2 linked regions of the Homo sapiens genome follow. The protein of the gene in region 2 purifies or fractionates together with the protein of the main gene of each other region. This does not show direct contact. Each region holds a gene or a part of one and is shown on either strand. Other genes may lie near its edges. The genes, in order: CGRRF1 and DLL3.

The links.
Region 1: the proteins of DLL3 (region 2) and CGRRF1 purify together in Homo sapiens (affinity purification with mass spectrometry; one large-scale study listed by BioGRID and IntAct). This does not show direct contact.

What each region holds. Positions count from the first base shown.
Region 1 is NC_000014.9:54,530,106-54,533,922, reverse strand, and holds part of CGRRF1 (cell growth regulator with RING finger domain protein 1), read right to left. Parts: coding exon 3,697-3,817; intron 3,021-3,696; coding exon 2,873-3,020; intron 1-2,872. UniProt on the Homo sapiens protein: Able to inhibit growth in several cell lines.
Region 2 is NC_000019.10:39,501,716-39,505,532, reverse strand, and holds part of DLL3 (delta-like protein 3 isoform 2 precursor), read right to left. Parts: intron 2,719-3,817; coding exon 2,476-2,718; intron 1,463-2,475; coding exon 1,245-1,462; intron 305-1,244; coding exon 82-304; intron 1-81. UniProt on the Homo sapiens protein: Inhibits primary neurogenesis. May be required to divert neurons along a specific differentiation pathway. Plays a role in the formation of somite boundaries during segmentation of the paraxial mesoderm.

The sequences.
Region 1 (3,817 bases), on a different chromosome or scaffold from region 2:
TATTCACAGTGATTATTTTTGGATGATAGAATACAGATTATTATACTTCTCTCCTTTTGGCTTATCTACACTTTCTAATTTTTTTTCCTGCCACAAATGTATTATTTGAATAATACTGAAAAAAAGCCAATGTAATTAACTAAAAATGAAAAAATTTTAAAGTCAAAATTTTGTAGTAACAATTCCTGCTTTCCTTTTTTTAATCTAAAACAACAAAGTGGTTCCTAACTGTACTACCTAAATATAATTCTTTGCTGTTAAAATAAAAATGATTTTATTAATAAATTTTTTAAAAAAATATAGTCCCTGACACGCACATACAATACTGAAAAAACACATATGAAAAAGAAATAGGAAATGGTCCATTTGCTTTTAAAATTATAAACAGAGAACATTAATACAAAATACACTAATAAATATATTTGAGTGCCAATATTACCCCCAATCTAAGAAATAAGACGAGAAGCAAGGATTAACAGGAAAAAAGGAGGGAGCCCACAGATGAGAATAAAAGACATTCAAAAGGACCCAGACACAGAGACATACACAAAGCACAAGAGAAGATGGCTGTTAACCCTTGGGAGACACTCAGGCTTCCCTATGGGAACAAGCCTCCCACAACTACAGCTGGGCCACACAGTCTTCATCCAGTGTGATCAGGGACCTGAGAGCAAACTCTTCTCTGGCCTAAAAGGCCACTGAACTGAAAACACACACACAAAAATGGTTAAAATGGTAAACTTTATATATAAAATATATATATTTTACCACACAGATACACAATCACTCCCTGTTTGGACAGGGGAAGAAAGTTAGAAAAAAAAAAAGACCCTGAGCACCTAGAGAGCACTATCAGTGAAGGGAAAAGGAATGCAATGGGGAAGCTGGGAGGGAAAATGACTGCGATCTGATCCTTTTGTGCTGAACCAAAGGAAAAAGGAGAACAGAACCCAAGAAACTCAGCAGAGATGGGGCACACAGTGGGGGCAGAAGGGCTTCCTTGCCCAAGTACACAGGGTCAAGAACAAAGAAGCTAGAAATAGGAGACACCAATTTAACAGGTTTTATTTATCTCTAACTGAAACTGAGAGAAAGGAGGGAGGAAGCCAGAAGGCCTCTCATGCACGCTAAGGTGCATGGGATGTACAGCTAAGGTGTTTCGCTGTCAAGCTCTATGAGGCTCATTAACATTGTCTAGTATGACTTTTTTTTTTTTTTTTTACTTATCAAATCTTTATTGAACCCCTATTATATCCTAGGCACTGTACTAGGTTCTGGAAATACACTACTGCTGGTATGACTTTTGTATTTTGTATTTTTATTGTATATATTTAAGGTGTACAACAGGATGTTTTGATATATATATACCTAGTGAAATGGTTACTATTATAATGCAAATTACGCATCATCTTACACAGTTACTTCCACTTTTTTTGCATGTGGCAAGAGCACCAAAAATCCCAAAAGCAATACCACATTAACTATAGTCTTTATGCTGTACATTAGATCTCTAGACCTGTTCATTTTATGTATCTGTAACTTTGTCTCTAGTGACCTACATATCCCCATTTCCTTCCCCTCTGCTCCCCATGACTTGGAAAAAATAAGCTGACCTCAGCTCAATGGAACTTCAGTTTGAAAATATTAAAAACCAAAAACCTAGGTGCTTAACTGCAAATGAGTAAGAAGGGTCTAGATTTCCCAAAGAGTCTTTACCTTCCAAAGCTCAATGTACACTTGTTGCAGGAAGATATTCCTGCTAAAAAAAATAAACTCAAAAAACAAAAACAAACAAACACACACAAAAAGCTCAGAGTCAAGCTCTTGTTCCATCTCTTACTGCCTGAATGACTGGGATTTTTCTTGACTCTGTTTCAGTCTGTGAAAGGAGAATATTTGCCCTGTCCTAAGAAACCAGGTTGTTAGAAGAAAAAAATAAGTTCATGTTTGTGAACGTACTTTGCATATTACGAATATCACAAAACAATGTTACCATATGTTTATTAATGAATAATCTATATTAAATACTTCAGAAAAGTAGTCAATTGTGTGTAAGGACATTTTTACCATGATACAATTTCATCAAAAGTTTATTTCATGTCTAAGTTTCTATTATACTCAGATGATTGTCAAAGTTTCAGTCCTCTTAGATCTCTAAGATACTTTTAACTTCCTAATAGGAATCAACTATCAGACTGAAAAAATAATTAGCACATAATGAGGAAAGGAGATTATTATAATTACTGAAAATACAGGGACCAGACATATAAGATATAGGTGCAGCAGGGACTTTGATGGAAACAAGGTGACTGCAAGCAGGCAAAAAAAGAGTGGATACTATCTTAAAATTGAGCACTTTCGATCATTATTGTGCTTATTTATTCACTGCTAAACATGTTCAGAATAAACATGCTTCCCAACAGACTGTTTCTATACAGCAAATATGACAGAATACAGAATGATGAAATTAACTTAATTCAACCATTATATATCTTTTATTTCCCAAATAAAGTCATATTACTGTGATCCATAAGGCAAAAAATGAGTCATACTCTGAAGGTACTGTTACACATATAAAAACTAAATAGGTGTATACAACCAAATAGGTGTTAATGATGAAACTAACTTAATTCAACCATTATATATCTTTTATTTTCCAAATAAAGTCATATTACTGTGACCCATAAGGCAAGAAATGAGTCATAATCTGAAGGTACTGTTTCACATATAAAAACCAAATAGGTATATAGTTGTTGTAGGCCAAATGCACATCCTCAGAAATTAAAATAAAACTTTTTCTATTTATCAAATAATGAAGAACCACCATTCAAATCACTTAAAGGTAATGCTTTCAAAATTTTCAATTACTTACAATATCATAAATTTCCCGGTCATCCTCATCAGCTAAGGTCAATAGCGCTACCAATGGATAGCGAGATCTGGGTACTGTACCAAAGTCTTCAATTTTAGTATCTCTTGGTAACTGGCAATATATTTCTTCTTTGCTATCCTTTTTAATACTTTTTGAAAATGTAAAGGTAAATTGCCACTATAACCATAAGAACAAAAATACACCAAAAATGATCAATAAGTTAGCAACACTTTATCCATAAGAAGTCTAATTTTCAGTGCTAATGGGTATATCAGATAAAAGGATACAAATACTGTTCCTGATAGAGACATTCACTCCACAGAGCATCTTCTAATGCTTGAGGAGTGCTTATTCTGAAGCAATAAACATGCTTCTAGTATACCAAAAATGATCAATAAGTTAGCAACACTTTATCCGTAAGAAGTCTAATTTTCAGTGCTAATGGGTATATCAGATGAAAGGATACAAATACTGTTCCTGATAGAGATATTCACTCCACAGAGCATCTTCTAATGCTTGGGGAGTGCTTATTCTGAAGCAATAAACATGCTTCTAGTATACCAAAAATGATCAATAAGTTAGCAACACTTTATCCATAAGAAGTCTAATTTTCAGTGCTAATGGGTATATCAGATGAAAGGATACAAATACTGTTCCTGATAGAGATATTCACTCCACAGAGCATCTTCTAATGCTTGAGGAGTGCTTATTCTGAAGCAATAAACATGCTTCTAGTATACCAAGAATGATCAATAAGTTAGCAACACTTTATCCATAAGAAGTCTAATTTTCAGTGCTAATGGGTATATCAGACGAAAGGATACAAATACTGTTCCTGATAGAGATATTCACTATACAGAGCATCTTCTAATGCTTGGGGAGTGCTTATTCTGAAGCAATAAACATGCTTCTGCAGAGCTTCATATAATTTTTGAACACTGCACC
Region 2 (3,817 bases):
AGCCAGGATTCCAACCCTGGACTGTCTGAGCCATCCAGGACCCCCACCCCATCCCTCGCCGTTCAGGCCTCCAGGCCTCACCATTGCGGCATGGCTGCAGGCTGCACCGGTCCACCCTCTTCTCACAGTTGGAGCCTTGGAAACCGGGTGGGCAGTGGCAGATGTAGGCAGAGTCAGGGTCTGCACCCCCGACACACAAGCCGCCGTTGAAGCAGGGTCCATCTGCACATGTCACCCCGCTCACCTCACACCGCAGCCCGTAGAACCCACGCGGGCAGGTGCATTCAAAGGACCTGGGTGTCTCCTGGGCAGGGACAAGAGTACTTGAGAAGGGTGTTTCCTTGGAGAAAAATCCCATCCCCCTCCTCAGTCCTAACCACTGGGGGCTGCTCCTTGTCCAGTCTCAAGTCCCACTATGCAGGGGCCACCCTGGGAGGTCCTCCCGACATCCCCTCGATCCACTCCACATTCTTCTGTCTGCCCATGTGACCCCAGAGGGAGGAGGCTCTGGGGACCCAGAGTGACCCCATTCCCACCCCTACATCTTTGCCTACCAAATGCTGCCTGCCTGGTCTGCCCTGCTCGCTTCTGTCTACACTGACGAGTCCTACTGGGAGGTCCTAGATCTCAGCCCACCTCCTCCAGGAAGGCTTCTCTGGATCTCTCCTTCCCAGGGCCTCTCCCTAAGTATTTGAACCCTGAGTGTGGCAGTATCCAGGTGGCCCACACTGGACCCTACTCTATCCCAGCACTCCATGCCAGGCTCACTCACTGCCACCTCTGCACCCTTGCTCCCTGCAGGCCACTCACCTGGCCACCCTCTCTAATCACGTCCCAGAAGCCCCAGCCCCGGGCCACCTCCAGGAAGCCTTCTCTGATGTCTCCACCCCCTGTGCCCGCAGATCCCAAATCTCCAACCTATTTGGCCCCACCACCCACTACCTTGGGCCCTGAATCGTTCTCAGTCCCGCAGTAGGGGCAGCTGTGGCCCCACACGGCTCCTCATCATTTCCACTCCTGCATCTTTCGGGGCCACCCACTGAGCCTGCTCTCCCCAGTCCCATCCCCATCACCTAATCCTACTTCAAGGCCCCAGATGCCGGCTGGATGCCTCCAGGAAGACCTCCCTGATAGTTATTCCCAGATCTCCTCCCCAGGCTGGTGTCTCATGGAGCCCCAGGGAGAGGGCTGTGGCTCCCAGGGTAAAGTACTAAGCAGGACAAGGTGGGAAGGGTGACACTGACACTACAGCTGCCTCCATTGGCACACGGGTTCCCGTCACAGGGCCCAGGCCCAGGGACAAGGCATCCGGTGGTAGCAGAGGACGGGCCCCTGGGGCTGAGGCAGCTGCTGGTGGAGACAGGGACCGTGCAGAGGGGTCCAGTCCAGCCCTCTAGGCATCGGCATTCACCGGGCTGTTCACAGAAGCCATGCTCAGGGCTGCAGCCTGCTCGGCACACCACTATGGGGGACAGAGAGGCAGAGAGAAAGGGAACACCAACGTCGGGGAGGGCCAGGGACAAGATGGAAAGCAGGGAGGTTTCTGAGCACGTTCCCTGAGCCACCTTGCTTCATCTTTGTGACAGATAATCATCGGGACTAGATGGTACTGTGACCGCCCCCCCAGTTTACAGATAGGGAAACTGAGGCCCACAGAGACGAGGTGACCAGCCCACCTAGGAAGTGGAGGAGTGATGATGTGAACCCAGGCCATCGGGCTGGAGTCTGTGCTCTTGGAAAGAGGATGGGACAGGGGCACCCAGGTGAGATCGTGAGGATAGGAGACAGTGAGGGGATTTGGGATTGGTGGGGGGACCCCTGGCCTTTCAGGGAAGATGGGAGTGTATTGAATTAGGGTGGCTCTGAGAAGATCTGGATTAGCCTGGGAGTCCTAGGGGCCTTGGTGGGGCTCTGAAATTTGGGGAGAAGTCTGAAGAATTCCAAGCTTTAAGAAGCCATGGGTTCTGGCCTGCAACCCTAGGGAGGGAGGATGGAGGGCCCCTTGGCCAGAGTGGACTGGGAGGAGATTCCAAAGCTTCCGAGTGGGAGTCGGGAGGGCCGCAGAATTAGAAGAGCTTTGGAGTCCTAGCATCAGGACAGGGTGTGAATGTGGGTTAGGGAAGGAACTGGAGGGTGCCAGCATAGAAAATGGACGTGGGCTTCCGATTTGGGGCAACAAGAGGGCTGGGAGAGGGAAGGGGGCTCGAGTAGCAAGGCAGGGCTGGAGAGAGGTCCAGGGTCCTCAGTTTCTCCGAAGGTGGCAGCTGGATGGTGGGCGGGGTTTGGGATACATCCGCAGCAGTCAGCGCGTTCCCCAGCTCCCTGAAGAGGGGTGCCTGGGGTACATGGTGGGGGACTCTAGAGTACCCTGAAGAGGGTGAGTGGGTTGTGAGAGGGGACTGGGGGCCGCGAGTGACGCTCAGGAGGGGCCGGGGTCCCCGGCTGGGACGGGGTGGGGTCGAACGCAGGACTCACGCGGCGCCTCACATTCGTCCTCGAGCGGTGCGCAGGGGCGCAGTCCCGGACCGCACCGCGAGGGGGCGCTGCGCGGACGGCAGAGGCGCGTGCACGCGGTCCCGACGGCAGGCGGCTCGCAGCGCGCGCGGTACGAGAAGCGCAGCTCCCAGGCGCCTGCGCGCTGAATGTCCCGGGCCCACGGGCCTCCGGCTGCCAAGCGCCGCCTGCCAGCCACGCGCGCCAGCAGGCTCCAGGCGGGCCCTGCGAGGACAGGCAAAGGAGGGGTGCTGGGGTGGGCCCGGCCGAACATGGATGCATACGGAGCGCCCCGGCCGCATTCTCCCCGCCCCTCCCAGCGAGGCCAAAACACCCTCATGGAGCCCTGGGGTCCTTGGACCTCGCGAGTAGAATGGCAGTCACCCTCTACTTTAGCAAGGCTGCGAACTCCCCAATGCACCCTGGGACCTGCAATGTCGTGGTCCTTTCTAGTACTCTAGGTAACATTTCTCTCAGCCAAGCATGGTGGCTCAAGCCTGAAATCCCAGCACTTTGGGAGGCCGAGACGGGTGGACCACCTGAGGTCAAGACCAGCCTGATCAACATGGTGAAACCGTCTCTACTAAAAATAAAAAATTCTTTAAAAAAATTAGCCAGGCGTGGTGGCACGCACCTGTAATCCCATCTACTCGGGAGGCTGAGGCAGGAGAATCACTTGCACCCAGAAGTGGAGGTTGCAGTGAGCCGAGATCGGCCATCGCACTCCAGCCTGGGTGACAGAGCAAGACTCCCTCTCAAAAAAATAAAAATAAAAAATAAACAGTTATCTCATAGAAACCGTAATACTCCTGTATTTTGACCCAGATATTTGTTTTTTTTTTGTTTGTTTTTTGCGACGGAGTCTCACTCTGTCGCCCAGGCTGGAGCGTAGTGGTGTGATCTCGGCTCACTGCCAGCTCCGCCTCCCGGGTTCACGCCATTCTCCTGCCTCAGCCTCCCGAGTAGCTGGGACTACAGGCGCCTGCCACCACGCCCGGCTAATTTTTTTTGTATTTTTAGTAGAGACAGGGTTTCACCATGTTAGCCAGGATGGTCTCAATCTCCTGACCTCCTGATCCGCCCGCCTCGGCCTCCCAAAGTGCTGGGATTACAGGCGTGAGCCACCGCGCCGGGCCTTGACCCAGATCTTTGTAAATTGAAGTAATGATGAGACCTCTAACACCCTGTGACATTTGGTACCTCCATATGGCCAAAGAACAATAACATGTCTGAAGTGAGGTCATAACACCCCTAAATTGTGCCTCTGGATCTTCCTATATCAAAATAGTCACAGAGACCCCAGTTACTAGACCATAAGTTACCA